Homo sapiens: one gene and its partners. The protein of the gene in region 3 purifies or fractionates together with the protein of the main gene of each other region. This does not show direct contact. Each region holds a gene or a part of one and is shown on either strand. Other genes may lie near its edges.

Region 1 (4,796 bases), on a different chromosome or scaffold from region 3:
TTTAAGACTTGCTTGATAAAAGAACGTTACCCAAACTAACTGGAAATTTGTGTGGCTCTTCCCTTGTAGCTGAACTGTGAACCAAAATCATAGTATTAATGTTTATGATAGTATCAATCTTAAGGCTTTGAATTTGTACCTTTTCTCCCTTGGTTGCAAACATCTTCTTCTTTATTAGTAAAGCCTACCATCCTTGGTATGATGCTTTGCACATAGCGATTCCTCTTCTAAACAGTAGAATTACTTGTTTTTAAAATTGCAGCTAACATTAAGCATTTATTTTGCGTTCATCAACAGTGCGGACTTTGTCATGTGCTTTTTCCATTTAATTTCTGTAATCCATGAGATGTAGGAGATGGTTTTGTCTTTCTCTTAATTTTCTTTCCTGAATTTGGTCAGCATTTGTCATTTTGTTCTTTTCTATTCTGAGCACTTAAATTTCCGATTTGAAGTAATTTTTCACATGGTAGCTTTGTAAAGGTATTCCCTGGCATCTTGTAGTTATTTTGAAATGACTTATTTTTCTGTACCAGCTGCAGCAGAGATTCAATATGGACTGGGGTGAGAGGTTTGGGAGTCTTACTAGGCTTCTTAATTCACCAGTACTTTCTTTTAATTATACACAATAGTGCTGTTTCTTCACTAGATGGTAGCTCCTTTTTATTTTGGGTAGTGGTAGTGGCATGATTTCTGGTTTTGTAGTTCTCTTTTGTTTCTATAGGACCGTGAATTTCCATCGCTCGCTTTCTCTCTGTGCCACAAACTTGTCAAAGGATGTCTTCCCACTTCTAAGTTGTCTCTCTCCCTGCCAGAAGCAATGCCTTCCCTAATTCCTGGCTGCATGTATTTTCATACCTTCCCTTCTGTTCAGTTCCTTAGTAGCCACTGCTCTGATCCACTCAGACCTATCCTCATTATTTTCCCACTTGGAATGGGACTGTCTTTTGTGGGTAACTTTTATCTGTCTGACCTTTCTGGAACCCTCCTGCCCTCTCCACTGCATAGTCTCTGCCTGACTGTCTACTCTAGTGTGGGCTTTGGAGCTGGTTTTGGGGGTTCATTTCTCTTAACTTCCATAAGTTGAAGTGTGTAATATTTTCTGACTCCTAATGTAGTAGGCATGGATTGGGGTGGTTTTGTTGTCCTTGTTGATCTGTATAGTTTTTGTGGGATAGGTGGAAAAGTTGGAATTTGGGCAGCTGGCATTGTTTTACAGGAAACTGCTTTTTGATTTTATGTTTTATCTTCGAAATTCTTTATAAAAATATCTTGTTTGTATTCTTCAAGAACTCTTTCTTGTTCTCTGCTTATTGTTTTAATTGTAACTCTGTTCTCATTTCAAGGACATACTGTCTTCTCTGGGGACATTTATTATGGCTTCTTAATATGTATTCCAGGGAGAATATTACATCTTTTTAAAAAGTATTTCTCTTCCCATTGCATTGACTTTTACTTCTACTTCTTTAAAAAAATATATATATATTTATTTATTTATTGAAATTGGCAGATAAAATTGTATTTATCATGTACAACATGATTTCTTGAAGCACATGTACATTGTGGAATCATTAAATCTAGCTAATGAACATACATCACTTCATATGGTTATATATTTGTGGTGAGAACACTTAACGTCCACTCTCCTAGTATTTCTCAGGAATACAATATGTCATCATTAGCTATAGTCACCATGGTACCTCTTTTTCTAAAAAGGAAAATTCGTTTGGGGATCTCTTGTTCTCATCGATAGTTTCCCCAACCGTCTGGTATTCCCTGGCTGTCTGATCACATGTGCTGATGAAGTGCCACAAAGCTGAGGGCAGCTCTGGCATGGGCCCTGGGGACTTATTCCTGGTTGGTGAGTCAGCTTTTACATGGAGGGCACCTTCTCTGATCCATATTTGATGTCTTTTCACTGGGCAACCCATTTTCTCCAGAGACCAATCTTCTAGTATTTTCCCTGGGAGAGGTGAGAATGGAGTTCACCTGGTTGCTGAAACTGAAAAGGCGGGGTGAGTCAAGGGCTCATGGCACTCCTGCTCTTTGGGGTGCAGATCTTCTCTCAATTCCCCGCTTTGCAGTACTCTGTACTTGTAAGTCCTAAGCTCTTGGGGGATTGAGAGGGTCTCTAGACTCCTAATGAGCCCTTGGCTAGGCACCTGTGTTTTGTTTCCATGTCTCTTCTTAATCTGTCATTATCCCTCCAGCAACTTTGCATTTTCCAAAAGGTTCTTGAACTTTTTCATCCACCATTGCCTCATAGATCTTTTTTAAAATTCCTTTAACTGTCACTTTGTGGTTTCAAGTGAGAGAAGAAATAGATGCATGTGATCATATTTTTAAGTTATAATTGATTATATTAAGTAGCAACACACTCAGTTCTGTACTGATCTAGATAATTTCAGCTTATTTTCCTAACGTTTACTAGAACAAAATAAAGTCACACTCTTTTCCAGAAAGATAATTATATTTCTCAGTCAATCCAACTGCCTAAAATAATTTTACTTTATTTAGACAGTCCAACTGCCAGAAAAAATCCCCAGTTGTATTACACTTTGGAATTTTCTCTTCGATGAATGGATATAGGTCCGCTCTGTGGTAAATGATTCTCCTGGTAGGATAGAGACGCGGGTCTAGGCTTGTGATGGCAGAGTGAAGATAGGAAGTATGATTACAAAGAATATAAGTGGATAGGAAAGACTAGTAACTAACGTGGCCCCAATCAGAATTAAATAAAAAACAGGGTTGCTTTATCTTAAATGCCAACATTTTTTTAAAAAGCATGGTTGGAAGTTGAGAATTGCATGCAGTATGAAGCTACATATGTTGATCATATTTGACACTTCTCAGCTCTATTTTTTTCTACTTGTTGATAGAGTGCCTCATTGAAAGCCCCCTGCTGATTTAATTAGCAAATGCCAATTAGAATTACAGCTGGTTAGATTTGGGTACAAGTGTGAAGCAATTGATCTCTTGAGAATGAAAATGTTTTGCTTTCATACTCTCTAGGGAAAACATACTTATAATGGATTTCACAAATATTGTGAAAATATATTATTTGGTAACATGTGCTACTAAATATGCTTCCCGATTCAATCATTATCTTACCTATCTGTGGTTGCTAGTCTTGGCTGGTCCTGACTTTTCTTAATCACTTGATTCATGATCTTGGCAGATCACTCAACCTCATTGAGCCTTTTTGTTCTCATCTGTAAAATGGTCCTATTAATGCCTACTTTACTCTTTTACACAGTTGGAAAAATCAGACACGATTATAGTTGTGAAAGTGATCTGACAGCATGAAGTGCTATTCAAGATGACACTATTGTCTTCATTGTTATTATTACCACAGTTATTATTTGCTAGCCTGTTAATCTCTCCACCCTTCTAGAGACCCAATTATATACTGAAAAGAGCACACTGGCCTTAGAATCAGAAAATCCTGCCTCTTCCAGTGAGAATTACAGAGTCCCTTAATTTCTGCCTAAGCCTCAGTTTTCCCTTTCAAAAGTAGGATTAGTTATACCAGGATTGTGGTGAGGATCATGACGAAGACGCTTGATGAGATCTGTAAAGAATATTGTAAATCCAAGGGATTATTTTTGTGATTCTTCATTTTCTCATAGATTTGCCAAGCTGAATATTAAAAGTGTGTTTGGAATAAAAAAGTACGGATTTTATTAGATGATCTTAATGTCAGTGAGATTTGCGCTGAGGGATAGTTGGGAATAAATGAATGAGGAATGAATGGAAGAATCCAGCAGAGATTCACAAACCATCTAGGGATGAACCAAAGGGTTTTAAGCCATGCTCTCCCCTTGGAAAAGTAAACACATGGGATCCCCATGTAGAACCCACATTCTTCAGTGTCAGTGGGATGGGAAATGAAATACCTTCCTTCATATGGACTTAGCCCATTTAGAATATAGGCTGTTCTCCTGTCCACTTTTGTTATTGATTTGAATAGCATTAATCTATTTTTCCTTGGTATCTAACATTTCTCTCTTTGTGTTTTATGTTGTTAGAAAATCATATGTACTTATTTGAAGGTAAAGATTATTCTAAAGAGCCCAGTAAGGAAGACAGAAAATCATTTGAACAACTGGTAAACCTTCAGAAAACCCTTTTGGAGAAAGCTAGTCAAGAGGGCCGATCACTCCGAAATAAAGGCAGTGTAAGAACTGTTAATTTATTTAAAAGTTGTTCTTCCAAACTCTCATTCTAAAACAAACAAAAAAATGATGCTGGCATCGTTTTGTTCTCTTAGGATGATTTGTCAAGAAATAAGTATGTGTTTGCTGAAATGTTATTATAATTAACTATACCCTAGTATAAAAACTATGTAAAAAAGTCAGCATGAAAAACATAAAGGAGAGAATATATTGTACGATGTCATGTAGGTGAAAGCAGCCTTGTCCATCCAAGTCACCCCTAAAGGCATTCCTATATTATACCAAAATACCATATCCTGCTGTTGGTAATGATGACCCTATGACAAGAAGAGAGGATGGCAATCATAAATGATATATGTAGTGTTCACAGTGTTTGGCAGTTAACGTGGTCATTAAATGCTAGCTATCACTAAGATAATCATGATGTTGAAATACAATCTTAAAAAAGTTACATAATACATTGCAGAAAGAGTTCCATTAAAAATGGCTGAAGTGGCATCCTGCAGGGTATGCTTTTAGTCAAGGAAAAAAGTTACTTTTCTGAAGTAACTTATTCCTAATGAAATGAATCAAAATGACTGTTTCAACCATGCCAATGCTAGGGCTGAGTTTACAGCATGGTAT
Region 2 (4,796 bases), on a different chromosome or scaffold from region 3:
TGGCATTCTAGCCTTTCCATGGAGGAGTATGGACAGATATTTTAACTTGACGGATTGAAAAATTATAACTATTTCACTATCAGTTAGCTCACAATCAATTTATAGTTTTCAGAGAGAAGTTATACTGACATTATTTGCCATATTGTTAATGGGTAGCATAATATTACAATAATGTTAAAGCTTTTTCTATTGTGGCTGATTGTTTTGCTGTTATATTTTTAAAATCATGACTGTACTTTTCTTCCATAGGCAAATGCCAGGAAAGACAGAAACAAAGCTGAATTTTAGCTTCTGGATGCAAAAATTATAATTTAAATTTAGCTAAAATGTTTGGTTGCCGAGGAACTGAAAACATTTCATTTACCAGCATAGATTTTATATAATACTGCTGAATCTAAGCTCTCTCTCTACTTCTCCCACAATCCCTCACACAATTAAATAAGTTACTATTACAAAGTTTAAAACCTCTATGCTAATACTACACAAATGCATACTCTCATTTAATATTTTTGGAAATTTTGTTTTCAAAGGAACATGTTATGTTATACTTACAAGCACCATCTTCATCATAGTTACTAAGATCAGCATGGACTGTTCTGCTGAATTCTAATACATTGTACCATTGATCTTTGTTCATAACACGATACTTTGATTGCTGCAAAAATGATTTAAATATTTGTATTTAAATATTTAAACAAACATCATTTACTCAATTTAGTAAACTAAGTTTTAACTGTTTTTGTGATTTGGTTTTTTCTAAAACATTTACTATTTTTTTAATTATTTGTGTTTCTAAGAGATTCCTCATGGGCATTTACATATTAACATAATCTATTTTTTACTTTTTTTTTCATTTTTGAGGAATAATAAGAGCACTGAGTACTAACAGTAAGGATAAAACTAACTTTTTCATATGTATATACTTGTGTTACCACCAATGAGATCAAGATATATAACATTTCCTACATCCAGTATGTTCTATTGTGCTGCTTCCTAGTAAATCATTTCTTTGCTCAAGATTTACTGTTTAGCCACATTTTGAGTTTGGCATCTTTGGAAACAAGTGAAAGAGTATAGGCTTCGATTTAAATCCCACCCTTGCCACTTAATTGAGTGATTTTGGGAAAGTTACTTAAGAATAGAAACCACCTCCTCATTTGTTAAATGGGGATAGAATTTAATTCAAAATGGTATTATAAAGATTTTTAAAAATATATGCCAAACAACCTGCACATAACAAGTGTCTGAAAATATTTAGTTCTTCTCAGCTCCCCATAGAGCTGAATATTTTTACATTCAGTTAAATTTATTTTTGCCCAAAACTACTAATAGGAAGAAAATAGATACCATCCATCAAAAATAATTTATAGGACTTACAGATTGAATCATGCGTAAAACTCATTCATGTAAGACCTTTTCATATCATTGTCTCTTTTTTTTTTTTTCTGAGACAGAGTCTCGTTCTGTCACCCAGGCTGGAGTGTAGTGGTGCAATCTCAGCTTACTGCAACCTCCACCTCCCTGGTTCAAGCAATTCTCGTGCCTCAGCCTCCCGAGTAGCTGGGACTACAGGCACAAACCACCACACCCAGCTAATTTTTTGTGTGTATTTTTAGTAGAGACGGGGATTCACCATGTTGGCCAGGCTGGTCTCGAACTCCTGGCCTCAAGTGATCTGCCTGCCTTGGCCTCCCAACGTGCTGGGATTACAGGCGTGTGCCACCACGCCCAGCTGATATCACTGTCTTGTATCACAACTTTTACTACTCTGGGAAAAGGGAAGCAGCTATAAGCAATGTGCTTTATGAGAAATTATTTCCAAAGGAAAAAGCATCTGTATTCAAGATATGGTGAGAACTATACCAATAACCCTAGAATTACAAAGGCACAAAAACAGATTTAAAAAAAAAAAACTAGACAAAGCAATGGAAAAAAAGAATAGCATCTTCTTAGAATCACTGCCTATAGTAGTTGCTATGATAAACCTTCTAAAAGAACACGTCATCATTTCAGCTTACATTTTTTTAGTAACCAGCATATTTAAGTATACTATTATAGCCATTCTCATATTTGTGGCCATAAAATATTAATAGCTTTATTCTGTTTCTTTAGATTGAGCCTAAGTAGAAAAGGAAAGTTTTATTACTAAATTGGTTCTCTTATGTACATTTCAGCTTAAGACCCTGTGTAACAAAAGAAGAAAATCAGATTTAGAAGCTTAAAGGTTTGTGTACTAGCATTAACTCTCTTATGAAAACCCCGAGAAACTAATTCTGCAAGACAAATGTCTGTGATACAATGTATTTCTTGGAGGTTTCTTTTATTTGGGGGACTGGGGGGGTAGGATTGAAAATATCTTAGGTACAAAATATATTAATAAACATGAACTTCTATCTAAAAATAGCAACTGATATGTACATATTTTAGAATTTTTTCTCTAAAGTTTTTTTAAAGCATACTATTAAAAATCTACTTGTTCCTCAAAAGTATAACTTTCAGATTAAGTTTTAAAATAATATTTTCAAAATTCGAAAAAACATACGTACCTCCAGGTACTGGTAAAATACTGAAAACAGTGGCCATGTCCTCCCAAGCAGAAGAGCTAACATAGATTTAGCAGTATCAATATCAAGGCTTCTCTGATCTTTATCCTAAAATATAAGTGAAAAAGTTTTCCTAAGTGTGGTCTCAAGATGAAAAGCTATTAAAACAACAAAACAAGAAAATTGCACCTACCCTTGCAAAATCAAAGGCATATCTGTAGATATTCTTAAATGACGAAATATCATTCAACTGTGAGCGCAAAAAGTCAAATTTGTTTTGTAACTTTTCTGTGCAGTCACACCTTAAATAAAAGAAATATCAAACAAATTACATAATCAAGAAAATCAAATAAAAGTATCACTGGGGGTTAGACGTAATGCATTAAGAAAAAAGTGAGCGCATTTATGAAGTTAATTTAGTTTTAAAATTCTGAGTCACAAATTTAGAGTAATAAATTTCTTGCCCTGCATCTACCAATGCAATAAAAAAAGAAAAAAGGGGAAAAAAGAAAACCTGGGAATCAAAGAAAGTTCACTCCAATTACTTTGCTTAAAAACAAACAAACAGCTCATTCAAAAATTCCAAATAAAATCGAAGTTAAAAAGAGATGTATTAAAACATGTTTTATCACATATACAGCTAAAAATGGCAGAGCAAATGAAACTAATCACGCCTTTGTCACACATTTCTTTAGAAAGTTCGTAGGTAACAGTTTGGTGAAAGACATTAGTCATGAGTAGTTTTAAAAGTTTAGGATATAACACAGTGCAAATTAATACATTAAGTGGTCCAGTCATAAATCAAGATCCCTATATTTTTGTGAACAAAAAGTCAAAGTCAATCAGTAGAAGCACCTAACTTCAAATAAGTTATATATGCAAAAGCATGCAAACAACAAGTCATACGTGTTATTTTTAAAGACAAGACATTAAATATAAGCAGCTAAATATATGGAAGGCTCAAAAATCTTAACTGACTTTGTCTCAGTGGGTTGATAAATTCCACTGTTTAGCAAGAAGCAAGGCAGTCAAGGCCTTTCACAATTTGGCACAAATCTCTAGTTTCATCTCCTGCCACTTCCTGATAACCTTACCATGCTCTAATTATATCACTTACCATTCCCAAATGCCACTGCCATACTTCAGCACCCATTATTTCCACTTGAAATCTCAAACATGCTGATAAAAATATTATTCATCAAGACCTAACTCACATTTTGCCACCTCTGAGAGACCATCTGACTCCCTTTAATCAAATTAATTGTGCCATCTACTGTGGTCCACAGTATTCCACTCAAAACTGAATTTTAGTTATTCAACATGCTCTCCAGCCACCTGGCATTCTCAGATTTAACTAAGACTATACTAAATCAATAATGCAAAGGCCTATAATGTGTAGTAACATAATTTCATTAATGTGTAAATATTTTGGACAATTTTCTAATATTAATTAAACCTTGCATTTCTAGAATAAGTCAAATTTGGTCATGTTATCTGTTTTATACATTGCTGGATTTTGGGGTTGTTTTGCTAGGTTCCTAAGTGAGACTAGCTTTTAAGTTTCATTCTTACTCTCCTTGCTAGTTTTTTTAACAAGATTGTAGTACATAAGACTCAGAAAATGAAAAGAGAATTGCTACTTTTCCCCCCCGTTTTTTGAAAAAGCTTATGTAACCCTGGAATTAGCATCTGTCCAAACTCAGGTGAGTATTGAGGGAAGGAAAACTTTTAACTAATAAACCAACATTTTTAATGGCCATAGGGCCATTCAGATTTTCTATTTCTTTTTGAATGTTTTGGTCCCATACTTTTCTCATAACTGATTATTTTACATATAAGTTTATTTAAATATGATTAAAATTTATAACATTTTCTAATTTGCATTAGCATTATCTTCATCCCTTTTTTGTTGTTTTTCTTGACCAATCTTACCAGAATTTAATTAATTTAATATAGTATTTAAGGCTATAATTTCCCTCTTAATACAACTTTAGCTGCAACCACAAGTTTTGATAAGTATTGTTTGTAGAACTATCATTCGATCCAGCAATCCCATTATTGGATATATACCCAGAGGAATATAAATCATCCTACCATAAAGATATGCAGGTGAATGTTCATTGCAGCACTATTCACAATAGCAAAGACATGGAATCAACCTAAATGCCCACCAGTGATGGACTGGACAAAGAAAATACATATACACCATGGTATATGTACACTATGGAATACTAAGCAGCCATAAAAAAAGAA
Region 3 (4,796 bases):
TGTTGCAGTGAGCCGAGATTACGCCATTATACTCCTGGGTGACAGAGCAAGACTCCATTTCAAAAAAAAAATAAAAAGAAAGAGGAGAGAAGAGAAACCAAGTCTTGGAAGGCAGGGAGAAGACGCAGAAGACAAGGAATTTGGAGGAAGAAGAGGCTGAGGGGTTGGGAGGGTGGGAAGAAAATGACCAACACTCAGGAGATGGGACAGGAGGCCAAAGTCGGGGTGGGGAGGCAGCACTGGCCAATAGAACTTTCCAGGGATGGAAATGTTCTATTGGATGGAAATCTGTGCCATCCAATACGGTACCCAGTGCCCACATGTGGCTACTGACCACAGACCACGTGGCCACTGAGCACAAGTGTGGCTCATGGACCTGAGAAACAGAATCTTTAATTTTATTTAATTTTAATTTAAATAGCTGCATGAGGCTAGTGGCTACAGTATCAGTCACAGCCCTAGTAGCCCAAGAGATAGTGGTGAAGAGACTTAGATGTCAGAGGTCAGACCAGGCGCAGTCGCTCACGCCTGTATTCCCACCACTTTGGGAGGCCAAGGCAGGAAGATCGCTTGAGCCCAGGAGTTTGAGACCAGCCTGGGCAACACAGCAAGACCCCAGCTCTATTTTTTTTTGAGACAGAGTTTTGCTCTTGTTGCCCAGGCCGGACTGCAATGGCGTGATCTTGGCTCACCGCAACCTCCGCCTCCTGCATTCAAGCGATTCTCCTGCCTCAGCCTTCCAAGTAGCTAGGATTATTACAGGCTGTGCCACCACACCCAGCTAATTTTGTATTTTTTTAGTAGAGACGGGGTTTCACTGTGTTGGTCAGGCTGGTCTCGAACTCCTGACCTCAAATGATCCACCCACCTCGGTCTCCCAAAGTGCTGGGATTACAGGCATGAGCCACTATGCCTGGCCTCCTTTTCTTATTAATTCTTTGTTTATATGTTTATTGTCTGTCTCCTCCCCCGCCCACCAAATATATGAAGCTCCGTGAAGGCAGGAATTTCACCTGTCTTACTGCTGTGCCCCCAAACCAAGCACAGTATCAGGCACTTAGTAGGCACTCAACAAATACTGGACTGGCCTCCTCTAGATTCCTGGAACCCAGAAAGATCTCCTACCTGAGGACTTTGTCGTGTGCTATTGTGTCTGCCTAATATATTCCCACTCCCATTCTTTTTTTTTTTCCTTTGAGATAGAGTCTCGCTCTGTTGCCCAGGCTGGAGTGCAGTGGCACAATCTCAGCTCCCTGCAACCTCTGCTTCCCAGGTTCAAGCGATTCTCCTGCCTCAGGCTCCGGAGTAGCTGGGATTACAGGCGCACATCACCATGCCTGGCTATTTTTTGCATTTTAGGTAGAGATGGGGTTTTACTATGCTGGACAGGCTGGTCTCGAACTCCTGACCTCAAGTGATCTGCCCTCCTTGGCCTCCCAAAGTGCTGGGATTACAGATGCGGGCCACCATGCCGGGCCTCCCACTCCCATTCTTCACCTGGCTAAGTCCTACCCGGCCTTCAATGTTATCTTCTCAGAGAAACCCCTAGAACTTTCTCCTCCACCCCAGAACCTGCTGTGGTTCTTCACAGCACCTCACACATTCTTCGATTTTCTGTTTATGCAGGTGATGATTTGATGAACGCTCATTTCCCCCATTTGACTAACAGCTCCATGAAAGCGGAAACCCCAGCGTCAGGGCAGTGCCTGCCCAGCCCCCTACCTTCCAGCTAAGCAACCCCCCTGCAAAACCCTCAGCCCCCAGGTACTTGATCTGATGCTTCCCGTATCCCCATTCAGCAGCAGCTCCCCAGTGACCTTCCTTCTCTTCCAGTCTAGATCCCACACAGCCTGTCACTGCACTCTTTTTTTTTTTTTTGAGCTGGAGTCTCGCTCTATTGCCCAGGCTGGAGTACAGTGGCACAATCTTGGCTCAATGCAACCTCTGCCTCCTGGGTTCAAGTGATTCTCCTGCCTCACCCTCCTGAGTAGCTGGGACTACAGGTGCCTGCCACCACGCCCAGCTAATTGTTTTTTGTTTTTTTTTTTTTGGTGTTTTTAGTAGAGACGGGGTTTCACCATGTTGGCCAGAATGGTCTCGATCTCCTGACCTCGTGATCCACCCGCCTCAGCCTCCCAAAGTGCTGGGATTACAGGCGTGAGCCACCACACTCGGCCCTCACTACACTCTTTCTCTGACAATACCGTCAACACTCCTGCCTCACCGTCCTGCAGCCACACTACCCAACCAATGCCTAGCCTGGATCCATCAGTTCCTCTCTGGGCTGAGAAATACACCCCTAGCCCGCCACGGTGGCTCACGCCTGTAATCCCAGCACTTTGGGAGGTCCAGGCAGGGGGATCACTTGAGCCCAGGAGTTCAAGACCAACCTGGGCAACATAGCAAGACCCCCGTCTCTACAAAAATCAAAAAATTAGCCAGGTGTGGTGGCACATGCCTGTAGTCTCAGCTACTCAGGAGGCTGAGGCAAGAAGATTGCTTGAACCCAGGAGGCTGAGGCTGCAGTGAGCCATGATTGTGCCACCGCACCCCAGCTTAGGCAACAGAAGAATATCCTGTATAAAAAAAGAAAAAAAAAAAAAAGCACTTCCCATCATCTTCTGGGGCCCATTTCTATTCTTGTAGGCTACAAACATATCCCGTCACCTCAAGGCTCTCTCAGAACTGAAAAGGACACTCCCACTTACCTCTGGGAAACATTTTCTTCCTTCTGAACCTAAGAGAAGATTAATTATAACCTCTGTTCTACCCTCAGGTCCAAGAACCACCTAATAGAGGCTGGGCACGGTGGCTCACGCCTGTAATCCTAGCATTTGGGGAGGCTGAGGCGGGTGGATCACGAGGTCAGGAGTTCAAGACCAGCCTGGCCAACGTGGTGAAAACCCATCTCTACTAAAAATACAAAAATTAGCCGTGCATAGAGGCAGGCGCCTATAGTCCCAGCTACTCGGGAGGCTGAGGCAGGAGAACTGCTTGAACTCAGGAAGCGGAGGTTGCAGTGAGCCGAGATCGCACCACTGTACTCCATCCAGCCTGGGCAACGGAGCAAGACTCCATGTCAATAAATACATACATACATGCATACATACATACATACATACATACATAAATGGGGGGACACAGGAGCTAGAAGGTGGAGTGAGAAAGGTCTCTGTGGGAGTGTGAGGGTGGGGGGCAGGTGCTGAGCCAGGACACATAGTACTCACTCTGGAACATTCCAGGGGGGCCCAGATCCTCCAGACCAAAACTGGAAAAGCTCAGAGGCCTGGATAGGACACAAAGAAAAATGGTTGGTCAGTCCCCTGTGGACAGCTGCAGCCCCATCCATCCCCCTTTGCCCCCACGTCCCACAATCCCCAACCTGGACCACCTGAGGACCAGTGGGACCCAGTTTGGCCTGCAGAGAAGGCGCGGAGATGAGCTGGGCAGAGGACATGGTTGCCATTGTCTGGAAAGCCTTGTCCTTGGAAACCTGGTCCTGGAGGAGGAGGCGGAAGTTCATGTGAGAGGGGCATCTCAGTCAACATGGCAAGAGGGGGATGGTGCCAGGGTGGGGTGAAGACGGGGAGGTGCAGAGGTGGGGAGTCAAGGCAAAGGGTTAGTGGCCGGGCATGGTGGCTCACGCCTGTAATCCCAGCACTCTGGGAGCCGGAGGCGGGCAGATCACTTGAGGTCAGGAGTTCAGTATCAGCCTGGCCAATATGGTGAAACCCTGTCTCTACTAAAAATACAAAAACTAGCCAGGTGTGGTGGTGCACACGCATAATCCCAGCTACTAGGGAAGCTAGGGCACAACAATCACTGGAACCCAGGAGGCAGAGGTTGCAGTGAGTGGAGATCGTGCCCCTGCATCCAGCTTAGGCGACAGAGCAAGACCCTGTCTCCAAAAAGAAAAAAAAAGGCAAAGGCTTGGGTTGGGGGAGGGTTGAACCTCTCCCCACAGCCCTCTGCCCCTCCTCAGGGACAGGGCACTAGTTTGGAGTGAGCGTGGGTGGGAGGATGGGCAGAGGAACTTACCACGTTCAGAGCCTGCCCGTGGGGGTGGGGGAGGGTGCCAAAGGAGGAAAGAAAACATGACTTAGGAAGTACGGCCCGGACTCCCCCACCTCCCTGCCCTACCCGCCCGCACAGCCCCGCCACCCTGAGCTGAGCAGTGCCAAGGGATGGATGCGCAACAGGAAGTGGAGGTGGCCAGCCCTGGAGGGGAAAAGGGGCTCCCTGCCCAGAAAGACAGTGATGGGGGTTTCTAGAACAAGGAAACCCAGAAGGTTCCCAGATGTCCAGGAGACAGGAAATGAGAATTTCAGAGCCAGCGGGAAGACAAGGTAAATGTTTCCTAATCCAGACAGAACAGACAGGGAACACAGAAGGTCGAGAACAGACCGGAAGGGAAGGGTTTCAGACCTAGAGAGAAAGAAAGGGAAAGCTGCTGGATACAAAAAAAAAAAAAAAAAAAAAACCAGAAGCGACCGTCCCCAAGTCCAGAAAAAGAGACAGAAAAACCCCCACACACCCAGAAGGGGGAGAAAATGAGGGTCTCCGGCCAACAGGAACCAGGAAATCCAAAGGATGAGGAGAAGGAAATGAATGAGGAATCTCCACCAGGAAATGAAGATTTCTGGGCACAAAGAGTAGGCAGGTCATGCAAAGGTCAGGAAATGGGAAAACAAACCAGCGGAGATGAAGAGGAGGCCTTCACAGCACAAGAGGGGGAAGATATGAGACCGCCAGGAAGAGGGAAAGGAGGGACAGGAGCAGAGGGAAGGGAGGGGGAC
Region 4 (4,796 bases), on a different chromosome or scaffold from region 3:
ACTAAAAAATTACACAAATCAAAAAGTGTTACCTTTGTTCAAATAATACTGCTGTTCATTATACAACAGAAAACATCATCCTTAATCTCTCAGGAACCAAGATAGTGGTGGATTCTTGGAGCAGAAGTAGTGCAGAATGGTTTGCGGCAAAATCGAAACATATTGTTTAAGTAAACCTTAAGGGGAGGGGAGCATATGCGCAATTGATGGATTTTTTTTTTTTTTTTTGGTATCATCTTCCACAAAACCTCCCACCAACCCCTCCCCACCACTTACCAGTAAACAATCTGCGATATTAAGGGACTGCAACTCTAAACACCTCCCTTTGCCTTATTTCCTTCTTGCTAAACTTTATTGCTTTTCCTCATTTTTGAAGCAACAAACAAAATTCATTAAATAAAAATTTATTAACAGATGCAGCCATAACATGAAATGTATGTTTGAAAACTTTGTAATAAATAAAATGAATCTAGACTTACTCCAAGAAACTTGCACTATGCTGATGTGAACAACATATACATTAAGTTCCTAAAGTTTTTCCAAACAAATCTTTAACTAAAGAAGCCATAAGCAAAAAAGGAATGCCTACGATTTGAACTAGAGTCTGTAACTCTCGCAAGAAAAACTGAGAAACATATCAAGTAAATCAAAACTGTCAAATTTATAAGCAGAGAACACTTCAATGCCCCAAATTTGCGGAATGCTTTTTATAGTCATAAATGCCTTAAAGACTGTACTCTTCCTTGTGTGACACTTAATTTTCACTATATATATTATTCCTTAAATGTGCTCTAGGTAAAGAAGGAAAAAAAAAATCTATCAGGAAGAATTTGGGTTAAAAGCAAAGTCCACGACAAGTAACCGTAAGATTTAAACCTCAGGAACAATTCACAAAAGAAAAGTCGAAACAGTACTTAGTTCTGAGCCACCGAATGGGGCGGAGGGCCTTCCACTAAACCCAATAATTTCTGGGTGGAGTGTCTTTTCCCAAGGAAGAGAACACTAGCACAAATCTTTTTGCCCCCTAAAAAGATTTTCCTACTTGCCAGCTTCTGAAGTTGCCCTGATGTCAATCAACATCACCAAGATGTCTCTTAACTGGAGAAAGTTCTGTTTGCCTGTGCAAAGTCAGAGAGAAAGAAATGACTATTTATAAAAAAAAAAAAAAAAGGAAACTATAAATACTGTTTGATAAATAGGGTTAAAAAATTATCATCTAAAATTGTAAGAAAAAAAGAGCTGCCTGTAGAAACGCACTGACCCTTAAAATTAATGTTTTCAATCTAAAAATGCATTTTCGTAAAGTTTCATCTATTTTCCTTCCTCTGCACATAAAAATGATTAATGTCACATTTAAACTTCCACATTTTAGGCTCTTGCTAACAGGTGTCGCATTCGTTATATAAACATATTCTTTGACCTGTGGCCATTGATAACCTTAATTAATTAATCTCCATTGAAACAAAAACAAATGGATTTTTTTTCCAAATAAGAAAGAAATAATGCAACGCAAATACCCACTTTCCCCAAAACCCAAAAACTGTTTAAGTTACGGTAACCTGAAATGCACCAGCCATCACAAAGAGCAATTGGAGAAATCCAGCAGTGCTCAGCAGGAAAGATTTTTAATAACAGATTGAAAAACAAGAATAAAAATAACTGCATCAACAGAGCCTTTCTTCCTCAGGCCACAAGCCCGTTCTTACTTGAACTTTTTTTTTTTTTTAAATGGCATTTTGGCCACTAAAACCAATCCAGAACATTATTAAAAGTTAAAAGCTACCAATTACTTCTGTCTGTTCTTTTAAAGCAAAGTTTGGCATTACGTCAGTTGGTTTAAAGAAAACAAGAAAGAGAGAGAGAAAGAGTAGGAGAGAAAGTTTCCTGCTTGTATAAACTAAACCACCAGGGAAGGTGTCTAGCCACTTGTAAAGTATTTACTGCAGGTTTTTAAAAGCTAGAAACATTTTAAAAATTAAAAGTTTTTTGTTATTATTTTTAGTGAAACACACTTAAGAACGACAAGTGTATCCTTAATGTCTTCTTTGGGGTGTCTTAATGTTATATTTGTATTTCAGTTATAGCTTAGAATCAGAAAATGATTTCAAATGATGCTCCAAATTTGAAGTACATAGATAATTTCACCTTCATTTTTGCTATTTGGATTTGTGCTCTTGGAAAAGGAAAAAAAAAAAAAAAAAAAAAACTGGGATAGCAAAAAGTAGACCGCTACGATAATAGCTGCTATATGCTGCAGGGACCAGTAGAGTTTCTTCACCTAACTAATGCTTAACAATTCAAATGGTTTTCACCTGTAGATCCTACTGCACCTTCAGAGATTCCTGAAGCTCAAAGATCTCTTTCTAACCAAAGTCAAGTTCTACATTATTGTGTCCATCAGAAAACCAAACTAAAGGCCAAATTCAGTTCTCAGGAATAGGAGAACAACTGAGCACTGTGATAGCTCAAAAAGTGATCATAATAATAAAATCGAAGATATTATTTATAAAGGTCATATATAATTAATAGAATATTTTATACAAACAAATGACTTTGGCCCTACTTACATCGGAGGATAAATTTTAAAAAGTAGTTACATCCTCTGCAGCACTGTTTGCTATAGAACAATGGTATAAAACAAGATTTGGTATTTTAGCTTATTTACTTTAATCCACTGGTTACAGCTTTTGGGAGACAAATTATTTTTAAAATTACACTAAAACAAACCTCTACATAATTTTTAATGTAAATAATTGCAAAGTATGTTAGTCTTTTCTATACATGACAAGCACTCTTAAACAATTAGATTAAATGTCTACTTGGCAAAGGCTAGAAGACCATCTTTATGCTATATCTAAGGGGGACTCAAAAATTCCATAAATCATAACTATTATGGTAACAAAGAATTTACTTATTTCTGTATAATAACAAAAGATAAATGTCATTTTCACAGATAAGCCATCAAAGTAAACGCAAGTCTACGTATGCTGTCATTAATTTCCCAAAACTTCAACAAATGGTAAATAAGGATGATAAATGAGTAAACAAGACTCAGAATTAGTTATCAATGGTATTAGCAGTTATCATCAGCAAAAGAGGGAGAAAAAGAAACCTATTACCTGAAAGCTTGACCTAGCAAGGATGAACAACAAAATACGAGCCCATAAAACTTGCGGGTTTTTATCAAATTGATTGTAACTTGTGAGCTGCAATATTTGGGACAGAACTGTCTGAGTTTATAGTTTTCTATGCCTGCTAAAAACAGATGCAGACTACCACACTAGCTGTCCTGCGGAAACTAAATTAAGGAAAGGCAAATACCAAGTGGAAAGTTGTCAGCCTGTTGAATGAATGGCTTCATTTTACACACCAGAGAAATCTTAATAAGAATATGTTTTAATGTAAGCCAGTCATTTTAAGTTCATCACTTATTACAAAAATAATCTTTCCTTTAAATCAATTATAGACACCTGCCCATAACTTTCTTAAAGTCTGTGTTGTTGTACACGTAATAGCATAGTGTTGTTACATTATTGTTGCTATCAAAAGAAGAACTGAAGTTAAAATATAATTATTCTAAAATATTCATGTTATGAAAAATGTTTAAAGGTCAGTTATCAGCATTTATTCCAATTTCAAATTTGGAATAAAGTTCTAGTTCAAAAACAATTTGCTGCAAGTCCTCTGGAAACTTTCAGTAATGTTTATTTACAACAAAGAAGGTAAGACAAGCGTTTATAAAAATCTACAGTCTTTGGTTGCTTTCTTAATAAAAATGTACACATCATTAATCACATATTGTGGGTTGTATGTCTGTACACACATACACATATACATCTAATAATAGTAGTGATAATAGAACCGTCACTGAAATACTAGAATCGTAAAAGCTGCTTTTCTACAGATGCATGCATTTCCCTGTTTTAAAGGTCTTCCTTATGAATGAATATTTCCTTATAGGAAGAGATCTATATGATGTAAATCAGAATAAACTCAGGAGTGGTAGGTGACTTAAATAATACTGAAAATATGGTAGTAGTATGTGTAACTTATTTCGGATTAGCACACTGATTCCGATCCTAAACTGGTTTTCAAACACGTATGCAGAAAATTTTATAAAATCATTTAAAATATTAGTCATCGAAATGCTAAGTTCTAAATTCAGCTCAGACTTCACAGCTATTATGACATTTTTCTCCTTACCTTTAACGTTACCTTTAAGAGACAAAGGACAAAACCTAAATAGTAGCACAGACCCTTACAGCATCTAGAATTCAAAGGAGTGACAAACTTTGTGTTAGTAACTTGCTACTTTCCACCACTTATTTGAAAAGTGTTAGACTTAGGTATTATGTATGGAAAAGCAGTCTACACATATATATCCTAACATATAACATACATATCAGGAAGCCATAAACATCAGCTCGCCAGTGGTAAATAATACTTCGCCAACAGAGTACTAATGAAGCTTCAGAAGGCCTCACATTCAGAGAAATCAAGTTATAATGTTGGTATTAAGGCTCTATTTGCCCCTCAGGAGTTTTATTTTCACATTATTAACATCCAGAAATAATCGTCAAACTTTAGCATGTTACTAGCCCTGTATATTGAACTGAATCTAGAGATGTTTTTATCCAAAGGTGTAGCTTTAAAAGGAAGTTATGAAATCCAAGGAGAGAGAAACTCTAAGAATATGTTTGACTTGTTAAGATTAAGCATATCATTAATAAACTTTCACTTAAAGGTAAAAAAAAAAAATCCTCAAAATGTTGGTATCATTTCCAGACTGTCCTGTC

Evidence for each region. Proteins that work in one complex are often made in the same cells at the same time.
Region 1: the proteins of TEAD2 (region 3) and CHD1L purify together in Homo sapiens (affinity purification with mass spectrometry; one large-scale study listed by BioGRID and IntAct). This does not show direct contact.
Region 2: the proteins of TEAD2 (region 3) and DCUN1D5 purify together in Homo sapiens (affinity purification with mass spectrometry; one large-scale study listed by BioGRID and IntAct). This does not show direct contact.
Region 4: the proteins of TEAD2 (region 3) and TRPS1 purify together in Homo sapiens (affinity purification with mass spectrometry; one large-scale study listed by BioGRID and IntAct). This does not show direct contact.

What each region holds. Positions count from the first base shown.
Region 1 is NC_000001.11:147,280,326-147,285,121, forward strand, and holds part of CHD1L (chromodomain-helicase-DNA-binding protein 1-like), read left to right. Parts: intron 1-4,025; coding exon 4,026-4,174; intron 4,175-4,796. UniProt on the Homo sapiens protein: ATP-dependent chromatin remodeler that mediates chromatin-remodeling following DNA damage.
Region 2 is NC_000011.10:103,063,723-103,068,518, forward strand, and holds part of DCUN1D5 (DCN1-like protein 5), read right to left. Parts: intron 2,846-4,796; coding exon 2,737-2,845; intron 2,652-2,736; coding exon 2,547-2,651; intron 656-2,546; coding exon 553-655; intron 1-552. UniProt on the Homo sapiens protein: Contributes to the neddylation of all cullins by transferring NEDD8 from N-terminally acetylated NEDD8-conjugating E2s enzyme to different cullin C-terminal domain-RBX complexes which is necessary for the activation of cullin-RING E3 ubiquitin ligases (CRLs).
Region 3 is NC_000019.10:49,351,921-49,356,716, forward strand, and holds part of TEAD2 (transcriptional enhancer factor TEF-4), read right to left. Parts: intron 4,051-4,796; coding exon 4,039-4,050; intron 3,500-4,038; coding exon 3,392-3,499; coding exon of another isoform or gene 3,383-3,391; intron 3,287-3,382; coding exon 3,228-3,286; intron 1-3,227. UniProt on the Homo sapiens protein: Transcription factor which plays a key role in the Hippo signaling pathway, a pathway involved in organ size control and tumor suppression by restricting proliferation and promoting apoptosis.
Region 4 is NC_000008.11:115,661,538-115,666,333, forward strand, and holds part of TRPS1 (zinc finger transcription factor Trps1), read right to left. Parts: intron 1-4,796. UniProt on the Homo sapiens protein: Transcriptional repressor. Binds specifically to GATA sequences and represses expression of GATA-regulated genes at selected sites and stages in vertebrate development. Regulates chondrocyte proliferation and differentiation.